2 separate regions of the Homo sapiens genome follow, and region 1 is linked to region 2. The links come from fine-mapping of genetic effects on gene expression. A gene starts in region 2. The other region holds a variant in brackets. All regions are shown on one strand. Distances are between the middles of the regions. Region 1 has its middle 52 kb from the start of LINC00615. Region 2 holds the start of LUM (lumican).

Evidence for each region. PIP is the estimated chance that this variant, and not a neighbour inherited with it, causes the effect.
Region 1: its variant is fine-mapped to the expression of LUM in coronary artery (GTEx, PIP above 0.99).

The regions. Positions count from the first base shown.
Region 1 is chr12:90,860,193-90,871,577 of GRCh38, reverse strand. No RefSeq gene overlaps it. Among named protein-coding and RNA genes, the nearest start is that of LINC00615, 52 kb to the left of the region's middle. The variant A/G (reference allele first, on the strand shown) is at 6,051.
Region 2 is chr12:91,105,368-91,116,752 of GRCh38, reverse strand. LUM (lumican) reads left to right here and starts at 5,259. Exons shown (of 3, transcript NM_002345.4): 1 at 5,259-5,355; 2 at 7,753-8,635. The coding sequence starts at 7,774.

The DNA.
Region 1 (11,385 bases), 250 kb after region 2:
GGATGGATGGTTTTGCTGGCAGCAAATACGGAGAAGGCCTTAAGGCAGCAAGTATATGTTAAGTATTAGGTCCTAGGGGAATACTATAATAATTACATATAGCCACTAGCCTTAAGAATATTATAATGACATGAAAAGCAATGCCAATTTTAAAAAATTAATATCCATTAAATTAAATTTGTTGTGTAAAGTATTCTTTAATGTGAGAGCCAAAACAAGCATACTAGAAAATATAAATAAAAATATATTTCTAACTCTATTTATAGGGTTCCTGAGCATTATAGAAATGGAAGATGGTAAAAGTGGGGAAATTTCTATTTTAGGCATATGTGAATATATTATGTAACTTCTGCAGTATTCACATTTTTGATTTGCATATGGTGTCACTTGCCAGAAGCAGATATTTTATGCATAACCACAGATGGGAGCTGTTAGCTGGGATTTTGTCTTCAGCTCATCATCATTAGATATTAACTGGAATGGATCAGTACCTACCTGCAGGCTCTCACAAGCAGAAAAAAGAAAACAAAGCAGAGTTAATCAGTTTGAAGATCACAGTTCAACTGGCTGTAAGGAAAGCATCACACATTATGGAAAATATTTGGCATATATTCTTCAAAATTAAATTGGTTGTACTTGAGTACTTGTAGAGTGTTTAAAAGGAAACTATGATGCTCTAAAAAGTCCAGGTCAGGACTGTGAAAGAAATGAGAGTTCACCATTCCCTTGTACTAGCTCTGGGACAATACCCCTGAAAATCTATCAAAATAGAGGCAAGAGTGTAAAACTGATGCAACGTTTCAAAATAATTTCCCTTTAAATTTTATCAAGTTTGAAAACGCTTATATCAATGAAATTTACAAATATGCTTTATCAAGTTATTGTTCATATTATAATATAATACAGGTTTGTTTCATTCACATAATAGAGGATAATGACTTTTTAAAAAGATTGCTCTATGTCTTATGTCTTATACCTTCAGAATATTTCGTATCTTTTATTGATTATCTTGTATTTAAACAACATGAGTATAATGGAAACATATTTAAGAACAAAAAGTTAAAGACAATTCAAAAGAAGTAAATAGGAAAGAAAGGTTATGTTAATATTATTTGGCTTCTGGTTTTACACAGTTACTTCAAGAAATTTTCTTTGGGAGGTGTGAATTTTTAATTTTATAGTTTTTTATTTTTTTTATTTTTTAGAGACTAGTCTTGCGCTGGCATGCAGTGGCACAATCATAGCTCACTGCAGGCTTCTACCTTGAATTCCTGGGCTCAAGTGATCCTCCAGCCAACCTTGGCTTCCCAAAGTCCGGGAATACAGGCATGAGCCACTACACCCAGCCTGGATTCTGATCTCAGCTCCGTCACTCTAAAGTTCAATTTCATTTGTGTGACATTCAGATGCTAAATTCTATATTTATTTCACAAGCTTCTTAGGAGGATTGAATAAGACCATAAGCTCCAGAGCACCATTCAGATTACATATTAAAAATCATTTCCAGAGCCTTGTGCAAGGATGGGAGAAAAGACAGGGGAGAAAGACATATTCAGAATGAGAAGAACTATTCCAGATTGATAGGGGAAGGAGAGGCGAAATAAAAAAGAGAACACTCACCTAGCATTTCCCATCAAACTGCCATTTCCTCCAATTGTTTTTTATTTTTATTTTTATTTTTTCTTCTGGCAGGGGTTGGCAACTTCTGAACAGGTAAGCCAGATTTTATTATTTCTTTCTTTGAGTGTAGTTGTGAAAGAAGGTAGCTCCTAAAGAGAAAAGGCAGAGATGTGTTTCTGACACTCCATGTTTAGGAAGCTCCTCTGGTCACATGTGTTTACTGGGAGAAAGCAATGAAAAGTTTTGACAATTCTGTACACTTCTCAAATATTACTTATTTGGTAAAGCAACGGGCCCCTTTCTACAATAATATTAATAGTTGTCATCTAATTTTTTCTAAGTTTAAATTTTTGAACAATGGCTTTATTAAATAAACCCAGAAGTATCAACTATGTCTTAAATATTGTTGTAAGTGAGAGAGAGACTAGTGGAGATTAAGTACAAGACTTTCCTTGAAGAATTTGCAATTTGATTTAGAAAATAAGACGCGTATGGCCAGGCGCGGTGGCTCACGCCTGTAATCCCAGGACTTTGGGAGGCCAAGGTGGGCGGATCACAAGGTCAGGAGATCGAGACCATCCTAGCTAACACAGTGAAACCCCGTCTCTACTAAAAATACAAAAAATTGGCTGGGCGTGGTGGCGGGCGCCTGTAGTCCCAGCTACTCGGGAGGCTGAGGCAGGAGAATGGCGTGAACCCGGGAGGTAGAGCTTGCAGTAAGCCGAGATAGCGTCACTGCACTCCAGCCTGGGTGACAGAGCGAGACTACATCTCAAAAAAAAAAAAAAAAAAAAAGAAAGAAAAAAAAAGAAAAGAAAATAAGACATGTGTACAGGCAATAAACAAAGAGAAAGCCATACAAAGTTAAATATATTGTTTTCCAAGCACCAGATTATATGGCAGTGGGTATGAAATGCTGTAGAAATTCAGCAAAGAAACGGTAAGTTAAGAAAAAACACTCTGCAGTTCCATGCAACTCTTAAAGTAGGAACAGAACTTAGAAATCACATATGTAGACAATCCTCTTATATACAAACAGACTTCAAGCTCCAGCAGATAATGTAGCTTAAGTTAGAGGTGACTTGAGAACTAAAATCCTAATTTTCAACACCCTAGTCACCTTGTGCTAAACAAAACTTGACATTGGCAGTGGAGGCTGGGCAGGCTTTGGATGATAAGGGGAGTTAGTATTTTAGGAAAGCAGTTGGGTAAACTGTAAAATGAACAGCTTTAGGAGCTGGCTATATTTTATTATAGCAATAGATCCTTTATGAAAGTAGCTTTATTGATTTATAGGATTAATCACATTAACAAAGAACTTTGTTTCACACATTGGAGAGCCATCAAATAAGTATTTGCTGAATATAAAAGCATAAAGATAACTTGATTTATGTAATGGAATCTATTTTATTTTTTTTTCTTTACAATTCTAGAAGAATGGATGATAGAAACAATAGTAACCTCACAATTAATGTTTTTAACTAGGAAATAGTGATTTTGTGAATTTAGTATTTGGAGATTACATTTCCAGCTCTCCATCTACCACAAATGAACACTTTTTGTGTTCACCTTTATATTATGAACACCTTTTGTGAACACCTTTATATGCTCAACTGAAAGGGAAAAGTAAGTAATCTCATATTCTCTTTCTGAGTCATCATTCAGACTTTAAAATGAACATCTGTTTGGGTGATGGACAAACATCATTTGTGAGCTAATATTTGAAGAAAACAATGCAATATAAGCCTTAAATGCTGCCATTATATACCTGAGACTAGTTTTTTCTTTGATTTCTAATTGTTTAAAATTCCTATCATAATTTTGAACCTATTTTATTGATTTTTTATTCACTTTAAATAAACTAACATTTATTTAGTGCATACTCTGGGTCAAATACTATGTTTGGTGCTAAAAATATGGAGATGGAATGGCAATTCCTTTGCCAAATAAAACGATAATTAAGGCATACTACAGTGAGACATACTTTAGAATCCATTATACCTAAGGTACTTTAAATATGCTACGTAATTTAATTTTTATAAAAATATATAAATTATCCCTTTTATAGAAGATGAATAGAAATATTGCCTAGCATAAAGTAAAACCCACAAAAACATAGACAGAAAAATGTATAACATCTTATTAATTACAAATAGAAAATGTTTTTGTATTTTAAAAACTTCTAAAAAATGTTATCTTTATTTTTCTGTGTTTGAATTTAAACATGAAATTTATGAATACAATTCAGATTTTTCAAAAATAACCATTGAAAATGGTTTACATACTGAAATATTTACATTTAAACAAATTATCTGAAAATAAAAAAATGTATTTTACTTATTATCTCAATTGTTTTTGAAGAGATGTCGGCTTGGGGAGATGATTAAGCGTTTACAGGGCAGTGAATAAATGTAAACTATTCCTTTATATGTCTTAAAAACACAAAAGAAAATAGTTTCGCGACTGCAGTTATTAGAACAAAAGCTATTTAGCCTTTATTCCTGTGCTCTGACTGGGAAACTTTAATAATGATTTAAGACCTATTTCATATGCCCCTCTTATTCAATTACTAACACATTTTATTATTAGTCATATGTTCTGTTAGATGATGCAAAAAATAAGAAAATATAGGTTCTATAACCTCAGGATGCTACCGATCTATTAAAGAGGCAGATATCAAGAAAATAATTAAAATATAATCAAAAAGTTGCTTATGTCTATTAATCAATCAAATAAAAAAACCACTTTAAATTATTCAAGTATTAAATTTTAATATAAGGAAATAGAAGCTTAAACAATCGTTGCAAGGTGTGGTAGAAATGAAACGGCTTCATCCCATTCCGCCCAAAGGATTTCCGCAGGTGGTTTGGTCAGCAGATGGTTTTCAGCTGTTTGCTTTTTAAAGGTCTGCTTCAGCTACAACAGCTTCCTTCATTCATGGTCACACCATTCCTGGAGCAGCTCACAACTGGTGACAGCCAAGAGTGGTTATAAAACCAAGCCATTTTAACCCAGTATAGCGCAACTTTAATAGAAATCATCACTCCATAGCTTCCTATCAGATTGACTGAAAATTTTCAGGTCTGCATCACGGTTTGACCTCTTTTTTTCCCCTATCTAGTTCTTCCATCTTCCTTTCACAGTGGATCCCTGATAAACATCTTGCATCCTAAATATGGTCTCAGCCCCTGGTTCTGGAAAATGCCAACCTGAACAGAAGAGCTGGGGGACCCCAAGTCAGGAAAGTTGCCATGGAAAATCTCAGTCTGTTCTTGCACTGCTATAAACAATTACCTGAGACTGGGAAATTTATAAAGAAAAGAGTTTAAATTGACTCACAGTTCTTCTGCATGCTATACAAGAGGCATAGCTGGGGAGGCCTCAGGAAACTTACAATCATGGGAGAAGGCAAAGGGGAAGCAGGCACATATTCACATGGCCAGCAAGAGAGAGTGAGTGGGTGGGAGAGAGGTACTACACTATTGTTTTCTTTCTTTCTTTCTTTCTTTCTTTCTTTCTTTCTTTCTTTCTTTCTTTCTTTCTTTCTTTCCTTCTTTTCTTTCTTCTTTCTTTCTTCCTTCCTTCTTTTTTTTTTTTTTTTTGAGACGGAGTCTTGCTCTGTCATCCAGACTGGAGTGCCGTGGCATGATCTCGGCTCACTGCAACTTCTGCCTCCCAGGTTTAAGCGATTCTTCTGCCTCAGCTTCCTGAGTAGCTGGGACTACAGGTGTGCACCACCACACCTGGCTAATTTTTGTATTTTTAGTAGAAATGGGATTTCACCATGTTGACCAGGATGGTCTAAATCTCCTGACCTCGTGATCCACCTGCCTCGGCCTCCCAAAGTGCTGGGATTACAGGCGTGAGCCACTGTACCTGGCCTAGAGAGATGCTACAAACTTTTAAACAACTAGATCTCCTGAGAATTCTACAGTGAGACAGCACTAGGGGGATGGTGCTAAACCATTAGAAACCACCCACATGATCCAATCACCTCCCACCATGTCCCATCTCAAACACTGGGGATTACAATTCAATGTGAGATTTGGATGGGGACAAAGAGCCAAACCATATCAGTTGGCAACACCAAAGACTGTCTTTCTATCTTTATCTCCCCATCAAAACTATTTTCGTAAATGTTATTAATGTTTCCTTGTTGCTGAAACCAATGAGCTTCTTTCAGATCTTTATTCGACAAGCAGGAACTGATGCTGATAGCCACTCCTTTCTCTCAGGCTTGTTTCTTCTCTTGTCCAGATGGCGACTAAGAGCCTCAACTCAGGCTCTGAATCCCCTGTCTACCATCAATTAGCTGTGAGACCTTGAGAACATTATGTAGCCTCTCTGTGCCTCACTTTCCAGTCTGTAATATGGTGATAATCATTATATCTACTTGACAAGACTGTTGTAATGATTAAATCTATGTATGT[A/G]TGTAAAGTGTTTAGAATAGTGCCTGCTACATAATAATCACTATACGTGTGTCTTCTATTTTCATCCTGTTGTTCCACGTTATCTTGTTTTTTCCTCCTTCTGACAGTTCCTTATAAGCCTATTCACTTTATCTCCCTTTGTGTCCCAACTGCTGCCTTAAATTTTGATGCTATCTTTTCTTGACTTTTTCCTTGTGTTTCTCTAAATCATCTGACACATATCTAGTTTAAAACAGGCCTTATTTCTAAGTAGCAGACCCAAGTTTTCAACTTTCTACTGAATACCTACTTCTTAGTATCTCATAGGCATTGAAACGCAACATATCTTCATATGGATTATTTTTCTTCCCCATCTCCTCCCAAAAAGAGCACAAAACAAAACTCAGTGAATGGTACTACTAAGGTTATGTATATTCAGTTGCCTAAATCAAAGTACAGACTGAGATCCCCCTAACCCATATTTGTCACATCCCCAGAGCGTACAAAAAAAGTGATCAGCAACATTAATATGTATATATTCCATAGCACTCTTTGAATTTCTTACCTCCTTTCTACACCCATTGCCACTACCTTAGTTTAGGCTTTTTTTTTTTTCAACATTTCCAGCTCCTAACTGGCCATTCTAAATTTCAATCACATTCTCCAACCCATTTCCCTACTATAGTCAGTCAGCTTGACTTTTCTAAAATGAATGTCTCTTTACATCTTCTCTTGCTTAATGCTCTCTGCTTATTTGCCTACATTCTTCAAGAAGAACTCTTAAATCTTTTGTGTGACATACAATGCTGTGCATAATCTATCCCATATTACTTGTTTTATATCATTTCTAGCTAATCTCACATTATGCCCCAACTTTATGCCCCAATCTATCTGAAAAGAGTGTAATTTTCCAAGTGTTATTTAATCCTGTACACATGTTCTTCTGTTTGCCTAAAATGCCACCTCCATCACAAAAAATTTCTGCTTTGCAATTGATGCTTATCGAACAACCACAAAATGTGAGTTGTGTCTATGTACACAGCTGGGATTCAGCTGGTTAGTCAGCTTATTTAAGTTGGGCTTTGCTCGAAGTGTCTCTCATCTTCCCCTTGGAGCTTGTGGGCCATCCTGGGCATGTTATTTCCGTGGTGATGGTAGAGATGCAAGAGGGAATGTGAAAATATGCAAGATCCCTTAAGGCCCAGTCACAAAACTAGACAACAGTCACTTCTGCCTAATAATTGGTCAAACCAAATGACATGTGTCTATTCTGAGTAAAAAAGATGGGAAATATGTCCTCCATCTTTTGTGGGAGGGACTGCAAGGTCATATGGTAAAAGTGTGAGTGCAGTGAAAGAAGTATTAGAACTAGTAATAAAATCTACAACCCCCTATCCTTTGCCTTGCCTAATGATTCTGTAGGTTTCATTTCAGTCACTGCTTCTTCTAGATAGGTTGGCCTGGCTTTCAGTCTAATTTTGGTGTTCCTATGTGCTTTCCTAGTAGCTGGAACAGTTTATTTTGTCATTATGAGCACATATATAATTGTTATTTGCCAGGACCTTTATTTTTTCTTTCCATTGTACTAAATGTTCTTTTAGATAACAATTGTATTTGTTTTTATCCCACTCAGCAACCTAGAACATAGGATGTATACTCACTAATTGTTTGGGATATTTTTGAATAAATGGATACATAAAAACAGGAGTAATTGAATGAAACAATGAATGCATGAGTGTTGCAAAGAGAAGGTGATAAAGACCTGAACCAGGGCAGTAGTGATTAGAATAGAGGGGAAGTAATCAATGTAAGCCATGTTTAGGAGATAGAATTGGCAAGCCTCAGTGATAATTGATTGTAGGGGAAAGAGTAGTAGAAATAAGCAAGATATTTAGGATGTCTCTCAGGTATATGTTTAGAGCAGTTGAGTTAATTAAGCACCATTCACTTGAATAAGAAAAAAAGGAGGTAAGAAAATACTGGAGAGGAAAAAAAATAAAGATTTAAAGATGGTATATAGCTCTTCATTTCAACATGAACCCTACAATTAAACAATGCGTTACTAGGAATGTATATTTGGATAAAAACTCATCACATTAATATGGTGTAATTTATGTGGATATACATTTCAGAAGTTACATACTGAGATAAAGGAAAGATAATTCTGCATAAAATCTTACACTTAAAATTCAAGACCTTAAGACTGCCACCTGTCCTTAAGAGTCATGGAAAATCGGGCAACTCTGAACACTCTCAACTTCAGTTTCCAAATCTGCAAAATGGGGACAATCTAGATCACTGCGATGTCATGGGTTAAAATAAGACAATGTACTGGAAAACACAGCCTTGCAAATAACAAATAAACATAAGTATTTTATAACACTCCCTTTCAGGGTTTCTCAAACCTGATTGACATTTTGAGCCAGATGATTCTTCGTTAGGGTGAGGAGTGGGAGTTGTCCTGTGCATTTTAGCACGTTTGGTAGCATCCCTGGCCTCTATCCACCAGATGCAGTAGCATTCCCTAGTGTTACAACCAAAAATATCTCCAGGCATTGCCAGATGACTGCACTGGGATGGCAAGTGGGTATATCAAATCAATACTCCCCACTCCTTTTGACAACTACCACCGTATCTGAATCTGAACCTAGGCGGTAGATGGAAGTTGCAGGGTATTTTAGGAGGCAAGGAATTATTAAGATATAGACAGGAATATTTTCCATGCACAATTCACACTAGTAAACTGACTAAAGGAATCTTAGATAAAAATGGTCTATAGTCAATGCCATTCCCATGAAACTACAAACGACATTCTTCACAGAATTAGAATAAACTATTTTAAAATTCATGTGAAACCAAAAAAGAGCCCAAATAGCCAAGACAATCCTAAGTAAAAAGAACAAAGCTAGAGGCATCACGCTACCTGACTTCAAACTATACTACAAGGCTACAACAACTAAAACAGCATAGTACTGGTACATAAACAGACACATAGACCAGTGGAACAGAATAGAGAACTCATAAATAAGACCACACACCTACAACTGTCTTATCTTCGACAAACCTGACAAAAACAAGCAATGGGGAAAGAATTCCTTATTTACTAAATGGTGCTAGGAGAACTGGCTAGCCATATGCAGAAAATTGAAACTGGACCCCTTCCTTACACCTTATACAAAAATTAACTCAGAATGGATTAAAGACTTAAATTTAAAATCCCAAACTACAAAAACCCCACAAAAAAATCTAGGTGATACCATTTAGGATGTAGACACAGGCAAAAATTTCATGATGAATACCCTAAAAGCAATTGCAACAAAAGCAAAAATCGAAAAATGGGATCTAATTAAACTAAAGAAGTTCTGCATAGCAAAAGAAGCTATCATCAGATTGAACAAACAACCTACAGAATGGGAGAAAATTTTTTCAATCTATCCATCTGACAAAGGTCTAATATCCAGAGTCTAAAAGGAACTTAAACAAATTCACACAAACACACACACACACAAAACCAAACAACCCCATTAAAAATTGGGCAAAAGACATGAACAGACACTTCTCAAAATAATACATTTATGCAGTCAACAAACATATGATAAAAGGCTCAGATTCATTGATCATTAGAGAAATGCAAATCAAAACCACAGTGAGAGACCATCTCACATCAGTTATTATGTTGGTGCAAACGTAATTGCGGTTTTTGCCATTGTAAGTAATGGCAGCAGCCCAATAGAATGGCAATTATTAAAAAGTCCAGAAACAACAGATGCTGGCAAGGTTGCAGAGAAAAAGGATTGCTTTTACACTGTTGATGGGAGTGTAAATTAGACCATTGTGGAAGGTAGTGTGGTGGTTCCTCAAAGATCTAGAGACAGAAATACCATTTGACCCAGCAACCCCATTACTGGGCATACGCCCAAAGGAACATAAGTCATTCTAGTATAAAAATATATGCACACATATGTTCAATGCAGCATTATTCACAATAACAAAGACATGGAATCAACCCAAATGCCCATCAATGATAGACTGGATAAAGAAAATGTGGTACATGTACACCATGGAATACTGTGCAGCCATAAAAAGGAAAGAGATCATGTCCTTTGTGGGGACATTGGTGGAGCTTGAAAGCCATTATCTTTAGCAAACTAACACAGGAATAGAAAACCAAACACCGCATGTTCTCACTTCTAAGTGAGAGCTGAACAATGAGAATACTTGGACACATGGGTGGGAATAACACACACTGGGGCCTATCAGGGGTGGAGTTGGGGGAAGGAGAGCATCAGGAAGTACAGCTAAAAGATGCTGGGCTTAATATGTAGGTATTGGGTTGATCTGTGCAGCAAGCCACCAGGGCCCACGTTTACCTATGTAATAAACCTGCACATGCTGCACATGTACCCACAAACTTAATAAAAGTTGAAGGAAAAAATAAGTGGTCTAAATATCCAAAGCATAAAGTCGGTAGTATATCCTTCCACTTCTCCCACTTCTAACTCCATATCATGAATTCAATTGCTATCATCCATACTTTCTAAGTCTCCAGGTTATTCTTTAAAGCTAGAATATTCATCTCTAAGCTTCCTTTGGTCTTTTCCCCCCAGGATCTGTAAAAGTCAGTTCTCCAATTTTCCAAGCCTGAACTCTATTCTCCACTATCTCCTTCCAAAAAATTTATCTCTTAGATATTTCTTACTCTACGTAAGGTAATTTTGCACAGTTGCTAGATATTAGCAGCAGCTCTGATTTGTTTGCATAATTGATGACATTTCTAATGTAATAACTGGAATTCTTTCATGGCCTTAAAGGTTATAGAAAATCAGAGGTCTCTTTAAAATTGAAGATGGAAGAAGGACTGTAAGAGATGGGAAATTAGAAAAGTTTGAAATGAATGAATTTTTCAAAATAAGGATGTATTTCTTTTGAAAATTCAAAGATATAAAAAGAAGAAAAATATGCTTAAAGCACAGGTGGATCATGATAATATTTAATGTTCAGATAGAATTTTTATGATTAAACATTTTGTGAATTGGAGACAAATAGCTTGATCTGGTCAGAGAAACATGTTTTTAACCTTAAATTACCTGTCACTCTAAGTAAGATAAAAATAGTTGGACCAATAAAATATTGACTTTCACTCCCTAGACTGGATTTAAAGTAGAAATAAGTCAATGAAAAATAAGCTCCCACTTAGAAGATATTTTCTAGGGAGAGAAGGGTCCAGGAAAAAGACAGATGTACTCTGACAGGCAGGACCTGGAGTTGATGACCATGAGTACACAAAGGAACCCTGAGTCCCAACCAAGGGGTAAGGAGAATACGTAAGATTGGTTGTTCCTTCAGATTATGCTGT
Region 2 (11,385 bases):
GCAAAATAAATTACAGCGAGCTACTTTCCAATGATACAGTAATTAATCAAAATAAAGATTTACTCAAGACATGAAGATTGAATTAATACTATATCTGTGGATTGTACTTTTGCCTTACAAATGGACAAATCTACAGCTGACTCTGGTTGAACTAGCCACTTTTTTTCTGGAACCCGTTTTTAATTAAAAGTGTGGTTTGTCAGATTAGAGTATTTGGTAAATACACTCTCAAAAAATAAAGTCTATTTTTCGTTTCAAGAAAAACAACTGAGAGTAGTTGGCAAAATTTAAACTTTCGAGCAAAAATTAGAATTTGGAAATAGTAGAAAACCTTCGTTGATGTAATTTTAAATACCACATTGCAACTAGCCTTTGAGAAACTACCACTTGATGAGTTCTGATTGTTCTTCAAAAAGAAGAGTAGTTGAAAAAAATAAAAATACTATTCCAAAACAAGACTACAAAGATTACAAAATAGTGGTTTATTGGACAATAACTAGATTGCAGAAATAAAAGCAGACATAAACAAAGATAAATAGGAATACAGTAGTGTTACCGAGAACAAACTGGGTCATTGAAAACACATTTGTATTTGAAAATCATGACTATGGAAAATTCTGGAAAAAGTCAGAACACACAAGCAGATCTTCTACTAGCCATCAGAACAATGTCATTGTCAGATGTCCTGTGGCTTCTGGTAAAATTCAATGCTTACTTCTGAGATAATTAAATTGAGTTGAAATTGAGTTGGAATTTAAATGGAATAAAATTGAGTTGAAATTACCTAAAAAGGCTACTAATAATGCTTGTTTTCTCAATTAAATATTTATGTAGGGTGAGTTTTTCATTATATGCATCAATCAAAGCAACATATCTTAACAGATTGAACAAGGGAACAGACATAAAAATCCAGCTAACTTCAGACACATTAAATAGGTGTGCAAATATATAAGGCAATACCATTTTTCTCATTGTTTTTTTCTGGAACATGTTAATATTTTCACAAAAATGGTATTTATATTAACATGGCATGGACTTGTTATTTTTATCATAATGAATTACTTAAATGCTTTAAAATATTTCTCAGTTTTAATTTTGAATGTGATACACACTGGTAGATGGACTCCACATACGTCTTTGGGGTCCTCAAAACGTCAACAAATTTTAAGTACATAGAGTCCTGTAGGCAAAATGTTTGAGAAACGCTAGTCTGTGGGAACAGCACTTCAGTCAAAGAGAACAGCTGGTAAAGGACCTGAAGTAGGAACAGACTTCTCATATATCAGGTCCTGGGTAAAGGTCAAAATGGCTAGAATGTAAGGCAGAAGGAGGAAAGAAAATGGCATCAGGGAGTTTAGCCATGGTCAGATGCTTTAAGGTTTGATAAGCCTACACTTAAGGAATAAAGAAGGGAGACTGGCACTACCAGATATTATTTAAGAAATAAAACTTTAACAATTAGATCATAGATATTTTAAGCTTGATCATATTCAAACTTCATGAATGACTGGTGAAAAAGTGTATTCTCATCTACCTTTGATGGGAGTGATAAGCAGAACAACATTTTGGAGGTAATTAGGTAATAATTATAAAATTTTTAAATATGTGTACAAATTTGTGTTCTCCAGAAAGCCCACTTACTTTTGGGATTTTCCTTAAGCTATCTTGCACAAAACTTCCTCAATACAGCATTGCTTATCATGAGAAAAGAGGAATTTCTCCCAAAAGCAAATTTATGACTGTGCACTTACCTAAGTGAAGAAGTTATCTGAGTTCTGAACTGTCTGAGTTATCTCATAGGCTGCCATAAAAGAGGAAAGAGAAATGAAATTCTCTTGTGTATATAAGACATGTCTGAAACATCTGAATTAATAAAGTCTAAACAACAATTACTTATAGAAAGTGCAATTGGAGAGTTAGTTAAGCCAGGGGTTATTTAATGTTTAACCTTATATACTGCTATGCTGGTTAATGTTTTGGTATAGTGTTCCAATTTATATATATTACTCTTATAATGCACACTTATTACTGAAAAACATATAATAAACCATATCATTGATAATTCCAAAAATGTACTTGTCATGTAAGATACTAAGAAAAATAAAAGCAATTGTAGAGTAAGTTTGAAAATACATACAGCTATGAGTATAAGGACTATGTAAATAAAAGATAGTTTCATGACTTGTAAGATGCTAAAATTAAGAATGGGAATTAGATTGTTGTGAGAAGAGAAAAAATTCAAATCCACTCCACTCTATGATTTGAAAGCATAAACCATTTACTCAAAATATGCTTTCATTTAAAATGTATCTTTTGAGATAAGCAGAATAGACAAAGCAGGTACAACCAATTTAAAGATTAAAATTTCATTTTATGTGATAGTGCTTTGCAAATTTTAAGAGAAATCAAGTGTTCAATATTAAAAACTAACAACTACATTATGGTATATCCATATAACAGAATTTCATGTAGCAAATAAAAATGACAGTAGAGAATGATATTTAATGATATAGAAAAACATCAATGATTTACTGTTATATGAAAATGGGTCTGGCACTATAAGCATAATGTTATGATATATGTGAAAACCAAATTGTCTGTGTGTTTATGTTTATACCCACACATTAAGAAGATATACCAAAAGATAGTTATCTCTGGGATGGAATACTTAATTTATTCTTTTCCCCTGTAAGTCCAGGGCTGGGTTCAGAACACAGTGTGTGAAACAGTCATAACATGCTTTATTATCCTTGCTGGTCTCAGGTAACAGGGAATCCAGTCCCTGGGCTGAAGAGGGCAATTCCATCTTTTTTTTTTTTTCTTTTTAATTTAAGTTCCGGGATACATGTGCAGAATGTTCAGGTTCGTTGCTTAGTTACACATTTGCCATGGTGGTTTGCTGCCGCTATTGACCCGTCATCTGGGTTTTAAGCCCTGCATGCATTAGGTATCTTTCCTAATGCTGTCCTTCCCCGTGCCCACCAACCCCTGACAGGCCCGGGTGTGTATTGTTCCCCATGTTCTCACTCATAAGTGGGAGGTGAACAATGAGAACTCCCATCATTTTAACCTGTATTGTGATGAAATGCATTTAGCCTCCAATGCTCATTATCACCAATGATGTGAATCACCATTGGCCAGGATGGAATGTTTATACGTTACCCAAAAGTTCTGAGATGTGGATGTGGCTATGCATGTTATATGTTAGTGTGTAATGTAAAAGGAAAGAAACTATTGCTTAATTAACATTTGACTTTTTAAATAACTATTGCCTATTTAATATTTCTGCTTTTTCTCAACTGATAGTAACATTGTCTATAAAGTATTTTAAGCTGATTGAGTGAACTACATTGTCTCAGCTCCATCCTGTTCACCCTCTTCCCAGTGAGTGAAGATGTTCATGGTTTTATTCTTACATTTACTTGTTAGGTGACTTTTAGCAAATGAATGAGACTTTCTGACTCTCCATTTATACTCCTGAAAATAGAGTAGTAAAACATACCATAGGAATTTTAATGTATGAAATTTAAAGGAAGAAATGTGAAAACTCTGAGTATAAATCATGGAATATATTAGATCCACTATAAATGTTAATTTCATTTCTTTCTATTGGACCCTGAAAATATGCTCTGAAACGCACAAAATTATTCAATTATTGGTTTCACAGAACTGATTTTATTAAAAAGTATATGTTGACAAGACTTTACAATGAGCTAAATCCAATATAATGCATTTGAGGTCTGTTATAAATACCACAACACATGTATTGCTTTATAAAGAAAAATCTTAAGGAATGGATAGGTGGAGTTTTTCTAACAAGAGCTCAGATTATAGAATTTGATACACTCAAAATTAATACATAGCATTGTTTTAAGAATCCTCTTATAACAAGATCACTTAATTATATTCGATTGATTTGTCTTTTTTTCTTAATTCCTTATAAATTTATTCAGTTACTTTGTTGAAACTGAGGCCTATCAATAATTTTCTTAAAATAATATTAGGAAAAATGTTATGTTTATGAATCATCTTACAATTCCATTAGTTACTTTCAAGAAGATTACTTTTTGTTTTTGAACACTGCTATTACAAAAATAAGCCATTTATTCTAATAGTCTTTTTTTCGGACAAATGCAGTATTAGTCATGGAGTTAATTTTCCACAAGTCTCACTGCTAAAATGTGATATAGTTATTTTTAAAGACAAAAATACAATGTGACAACTTATATTAAAATATATTGGTGTAAAAGTTCTTATAAACATGAGGAAATGAACATTTTAGAAAAAAATCTCATAAATATATCTGATAAAATCACAAAATGAAATAGACAAGGATTTAAGTACATCTCTCATTTGCTGAAACCATGCATCAGGAGCTGATAATGAAAGATATATCCAGCCAGGCCTTTGGGAGATTATAACTTTGAATAACTTTTAACTTTGAAAAAAAATTACTAGCATGCAATGAAAGATTCTTGCCTTGTGATACTTTTAGTATAAATTTATTTTTTTCTCTGTTCTTTTATGTTTTTTGGCATTAAGCTATAGAATGCTCTCCCCAAGTAAGGTTTTGGGTGAATTCCTAAACGAAATCCACAAAATAAAAAACAGGCAAGACTTTGCTGATTGGTTCCAGACCTGAATAACATAAAATGAGTCTCCTTAGCATTAGAAGTAAACTTGAAATGTTGATATTTATCATGTGTATCCAAGTGTATATGAAGCATATTTTATATTTTTAAAACTAATGTAAGCTACCCTCATGGCCAAAAAATTAAGTTAGTCCAAGTAAATCAATATTGATTTCAAAAGTGATAGGCAAAGGGATTCAATTCCTCTGAGTCTGTTCATTTGCGTTTTCCTGAAATTATTTGCCCTGCTTATGATTTCTGAGATCTTTAGATAAACATGATAGTTGGCTGAGCACATTGCACTTAATTGTTGCCACAGCCACAGATGTAAAGAGGCTTGTAAGAAAAATGTTCTCACAGTGAGCTTCCTTATTTGAAGCAGGACTCAATTCTTGGTTAAAAGCTATGGTATTTGAGCTAGTTAAACACATATCTCTCTCCCATTCCATAGGGAATGAGCTGGGCTGTCCTTTCTCCCCACGTTCACCTGCACTTCGTTAGAGAGCAGTGTTCACATGCCACACCACAAGATCCCCACAATGACATAACTCCATTCAGAGACTGGCGTGACTGGGCTGGGTCTCCCCACCCCCCTTCAGCTCTTGTATCACTCAGAATCTGGCAGCCAGTTCCGTCCTGACAGAGTTCACAGCATATATTGGTGGATTCTTGTCCATAGTGCATCTGCTTTAAGAATTAACGAAAGCAGTGTCAAGACAGTAAGGTAAGTGCTGTTTTAACTATTGCACTGGGGATGTTAACTGTTTGGGACAGCGTTTTTTGTAACAGGAACAGGAAAAATTCCAGAGCAATTTTGCCAATTGCTATTCAACAGCAAATCCACAGTTCTGAGCATTTAGTTTCACATTTTGTTAATATGTTTTCCATGATTTATAGATTTGAGATTTTATACAGTATATGCTGTATTGCTTGGCAAGAGAAGTTATAAAAAGTTTCAAGGTTAGAATGAGAAAATAGTTAAAGTAGACACAGTGAAAAAATATAGAAATTAATATGTTTGTTATGTATGCTAGTTAGTTATATATGTTAGTATTGGACCCTAATACTGGAGCAAAGAAAAGTCATTTTAATCAGCATTCAAAATATCTTTTAATAAGCATATTGTGACAATTTGTTATAATTTACAATAAACGTTCTATGTTATAAAACATGAGCTAAAAGATTTAGGAACTCTTATGGATTATTTATTTCTGTTTTGTTAATTTAAAAAATTTGTTTCTTGGATATATGCCTTAAGGAACGAGTTTTTTAAAAAGTTCTGGGAAATGATTTCGTTTTTGAAAACAGCATTTTCTCTATAGCCACAGGTATTTGAAAAAACTGAGGGTAGTACAGTGTGATTTTGCCTCATAGTGGAGTCATTATATGGTTGCAAACTCTCATTCAATTCAGCATCCTTGTTTTTACTTTGCCAAAAAATATGGAAGCATTTTTCATTACTATTTAATACTCACATTATAGTTGCCATATTTTGGTGTATAGTAAATTTAAAATAGCTTATTAATAAAGCAAGACAAATCTTTACAGTATTTACATTCTATAACTTAAAATAACTCTGGGAATATGTCATCACGTTCTTTTTAGTGCTATGCAATTATTATTATGGCCAAGTTCTGTCAGCAAAATTAAATGCCCCCATTAAAATCTTAGAGAGTAATTTACTGAGAATCTGGCTACATGTTACCTTATGTCAGCAATCAAAGTATTTCTAAAAGCTGTTTTATAACGTTCCATCTGATCTGAAATAAAGTGCCTTACAATTTCAAATTAAAACAAATAAAAGACGTTTTCAGTTTCTAACCCCAAAGATCCTGCTTATCCCAAACTACTTTGATCCAAAAGCTTGTAATCATACTTTCATAGAAAGATATAATATTCTCAGTTATCTATTAGAATGTAGATCTTTCGTCACATTAATGATTTATCTCCCAGGGCTACCAACTTTGCCTCAGCCACAACTGTTCACTCTATAAAAGTCTAACTCTTATATTCCAATTTTCCCATATCTAAATTGCTGCACCTAAGACATTGAAATGTACTTTTTTGAGCCTCACCTTAGAAACATGTTCCTATGAGAAGATAACTGTTACACATTATTTCAAATTCATATTCTCAATTGAATAATTTACTAGATAGTTCTAACACCAGTATTAAATCCAAACTTTAAAAACATCACACCTCTCTCCCACCTCCATTCTGTGAGGCCACTAAAAGCCAGATATGCAAACCATGGCATCTTCGATTTTGGCATGAAGAAAGTAGAGAACTTGTGAGTAATTGAGAGAGACTATAACTCTAATTGAAAACTTGGAAAATACTATCTTTCTCTACCTGTTGAATCTCTTTCCAGAAAGAGAAACCTTCAGAATGTGTGACATTTTCCTGATAAACATTAGCAATTATTAAATATTACTAATATTTTGTTTAGTAAATAGCTAATTTATGAAATATTAGTTCCAGAACACAGTTTTGCAATGTGCTTTAAAAAGTGTAGAATGTTAAGCACAACATGAACTAGTATGCATGCACACCAGCACCAAGAATTCTGTTCTCCTTCCTCAGAACCAACAGTAACCAGACACTTTTAAAGGAATGTGCCTTCCATTTCCCTCCCACATACAAGCAAAACCTCAGGTTGCCCATATTCCCGTAAGGATCTTCTTCATGAGTCATTTTAATGATGTCGAATGGTAGGGTAGAGTATACAGTTAAAAACTGTCTTCTCATTCTCTTTTTTTGAGAGATGATCTGAAGCAGTAGTCTAATTCGGTGGTCAATGAACACCACCCAGAAACCTCTTACAGGAAGGCATTTCATTAAGGAAGAGCCTGGAGATTGACTGGAACAATTAGGCTGGGCTCGCCCAGAAGGGGGCGCACGTGTACGCAATCTAACCTGAAAGCTGCTCACTACATAGTTGTAAACATACACCTTTGTCCTCATACCTAAATAAAAATTTAAAAGACGCTGTTAGATGCACTAAAAATAGCTATAAAATAACAAAATGCACATTTTCTAATGAATTTAATGTTGCAAATTGAATGTCTTTTTCTTGAAAGTATATATTTTTTTAATTAATAAATGTTTCATCTTTATTTAGGATTCAAACCATTTGCCAAAAATGAGTCTAAGTGCATTTACTCTCTTCCTGGCATTGATTGGTGGTACCAGTGGCCAGTACTATGATTATGATTTTCCCCTATCAATTTATGGGCAATCATCACCAAACTGTGCACCAGAATGTAACTGCCCTGAAAGCTACCCAAGTGCCATGTACTGTGATGAGCTGAAATTGAAAAGTGTACCAATGGTGCCTCCTGGAATCAAGTATCTTTACCTTAGGAATAACCAGATTGACCATATTGATGAAAAGGCCTTTGAGAATGTAACTGATCTGCAGTGGCTCATTCTAGATCACAACCTTCTAGAAAACTCCAAGATAAAAGGGAGAGTTTTCTCTAAATTGAAACAACTGAAGAAGCTGCATATAAACCACAACAACCTGACAGAGTCTGTGGGCCCACTTCCCAAATCTCTGGAGGATCTGCAGCTTACTCATAACAAGATCACAAAGCTGGGCTCTTTTGAAGGATTGGTAAACCTGACCTTCATCCATCTCCAGCACAATCGGCTGAAAGAGGATGCTGTTTCAGCTGCTTTTAAAGGTCTTAAATCACTCGAATACCTTGACTTGAGCTTCAATCAGATAGCCAGACTGCCTTCTGGTCTCCCTGTCTCTCTTCTAACTCTCTACTTAGACAACAATAAGATCAGCAACATCCCTGATGAGTATTTCAAGCGTTTTAATGCATTGCAGTATCTGCGTTTATCTCACAACGAACTGGCTGATAGTGGAATACCTGGAAATTCTTTCAATGTGTCATCCCTGGTTGAGCTGGATCTGTCCTATAACAAGCTTAAAAACATACCAACTGTCAATGAAAACCTTGAAAACTATTACCTGGAGGTCAATCAACTTGAGAGTAAGTAAAAAGCTGTTCCTGTGTTTGATGTGTGCTCAAGTGTTTAAATACCTGGGCTGCACAACACAGATATTGCATCTGGCTCCATTAAAAAAACAAAATGTCGCCCGGGCGCTGTGGCTCATTCCTGTAAATCCAGCATTTTGGGAGGCCGAAGTGGGCGGATCACCAGGTCAGGAGTTGAGACCAGCCTGGCCAACATGATGAAACCCCATCTCTACTAAAAATACAAAAATTAGCCAGGCGTGGTGTCGCACTTCTGTAATCCCAGCTACTCAGGAGGCTGAGCCAGGAGAATTGCTTGAACCTGGGAGATAGAGGTTGCAGTGAGCCGAGATCGTGCCACTGTACTCAAGCCTGGGCAAGACAGCCAGATTCTGTCTTGGAAAAAAAAAAAATGTCCACAAAATATCCCTCTACTTCAAACAAAGAATAATTCTAGCTCAATCATATATCCAATATCCAGCCTTTCTTTGGTGTATCCAGATAAGGAACAATTAAGGTCACAGAATTTAATATGTAAGTCTTCAAACTAAAAATTCCGGGCCAACTCATCCTGCTGTGTTACCTCCTCATATATATCTCTTATTATTTTCTCCTTTATGGCTTAGATTTGTGTCCTACATTTATTTTTTGACAAGATCTAGATGAGGGAGGAAGAAATGAGTTCAAAAGTGGCACAGTTGGCAAACTCCATAGCCACAAAGAAGCCCATATTGTCCCTCCCTCCCTCCCTCTCTCTCTCTTTTTCTTTCTTCCTTCCTTTCTTTCCCTTTCTTTCTTTCTTTCTTTCTTTCTTTCTTTCTTTCTTTCTTTCTTTCTTTCTTTCTCTTTCTTTCTTTCTTTCTTTCTTTCTTTCTTTCTTTCTTTCTTTCTTTCCTTTCTTTCTTTCTTCTTTCTCTCTTTCTTTCTTTCTTTTTCTTTCCTTCTTTCTTTCTTTCGTTTTCTTTCTTTCTTTCTTTCTTTTTTTTTTTGACAGGGTCTCACTCTGTCGCCCAGACTGGAGTGAGGTGGTGCAATCTCGGCTCATTGCAACCTCCACCCCCCAGGCTCAGGCGATTCTCCCACCTCAGGCCACCACCACCACCAGGCTAATTTTTATGTTTTTAGTAGAGATGGGGTTTCACCATGTTAACCAGGCTGTTCTTAAAATCCTGACCTCAACTGATCCATCTGCCTTGGCCTCCCAAAGTACTGGGATTACAGGCGTGAGCCACTGTGCCTGGCCCCATATAGTCTCATGGTCTTCCCTGACATCAACTACTTGGGACTCACCATGTTACTCTGCTGTCATGATCATCATCTGCCTCTGTTATCTCTGTTATGGTGTGTGGCCATCACAGTGCTCTGGAGGACTGTGAAGAAGATTAAAGAGAAAAAGAAATATGATGGGAGATTCTAACATCTTTTTTTTTTTTTTTTTTTTTAGAAGAAAAATAGTGTTACAGAGCTTTTTTTTTCTTGGGTACAATCCTGCCCCTCATTTGATATTTCCACACTTTCTCTTTCTCCTCTCTTTATTTTTCATTTATCTTCTGGATGAAGTTTGATCTGATGCATTTGGACTGCTTATGCACTTATGTGGTCTTCAGGGACATTCTTCAACTTAAGCAGTATAGATTCCAATGGGAAATTGAAATCCACCATTTCCTACCAGGATAACTCTGCCATTAATCTTTGGCAGAGCTTGGTAGAAGAGAAAAACCATGATTCACAGATAAGGCTTTCTAAATGAAAAAATCAAGCAGGAAACATTGATTCACATATAAAGTAATAATGTCTGCAAAATAATCTATTGAATTTGAACATCTCTACATGATGAAAATTGGTTTTCTGGCCATGCTGAATAAAGGTATTGCTGTCAGAAAATATTACAATATATTTTATGCATATGATGTTTGTTAATTCTGCCAGTTTCATATAACCTCTAGTAGGGTTAAACGTTTTCATAAAGAAGACCATACTCGCCAACTCTGAAGCTCCACATGTTCTTTGTTGTTTCTGAAAAGCAGCCAAGGTAAGGGTTGGTGCTGTTTGACTGTCACACAATACACAGTCAGGCTAACACAGCTAAACCCCTCTTGTTGTTTCCAGTGGAAAATTCACTATGTGGCCATATGTGATTCCTCATTTTAAACATATGTGGTTAGGAGGAAGGATACTCTCTGACAGACCAAAATGCTAAAGGAATTTACGATGCTTAAGGGATGACGGAGTACATTAGATTTGGTGGGTAGAGATTATTCGTAAGAGCAGGGCTACTTCTTTCTCTGAAACAAAGAAGGATACAGAAGTAGGCACATTTGAAGGTATACATTGCATGAGTAAAGGATGGAAGAGAGGTCTATGGGAGAAAGGCCAACGGCCTGTCAGTGCCAAGCTGAGATAGAAACCACAGTGCCCAGTACATAGTGGTCATTTGAAAAGGTAACATAATAGTTTCCTTTCTTTCTTCCTTATCTTTGTACATTTAGTCAGGTATTCTCCTTGTCTTTTTATGTATCACCTCAGTTTAGGTTATTTTGCCAGATAATAATCAACTATATCAACATTTCACATTCACTTAATACAGAAAGTTCCCCTCAATGTTTTTTTCTAATATTAGGGAATATATAGCCAAAACAAACTGTTTTCTATTTCAAACTTGCAACTCTAAGCATTAGCCCAATCAGAGATCTTCCTAGTGTAGAGTAATTTAGAAAGACAGCAAAATCAAAAGGATATTAGTCATTATTTAGGACATACTATGT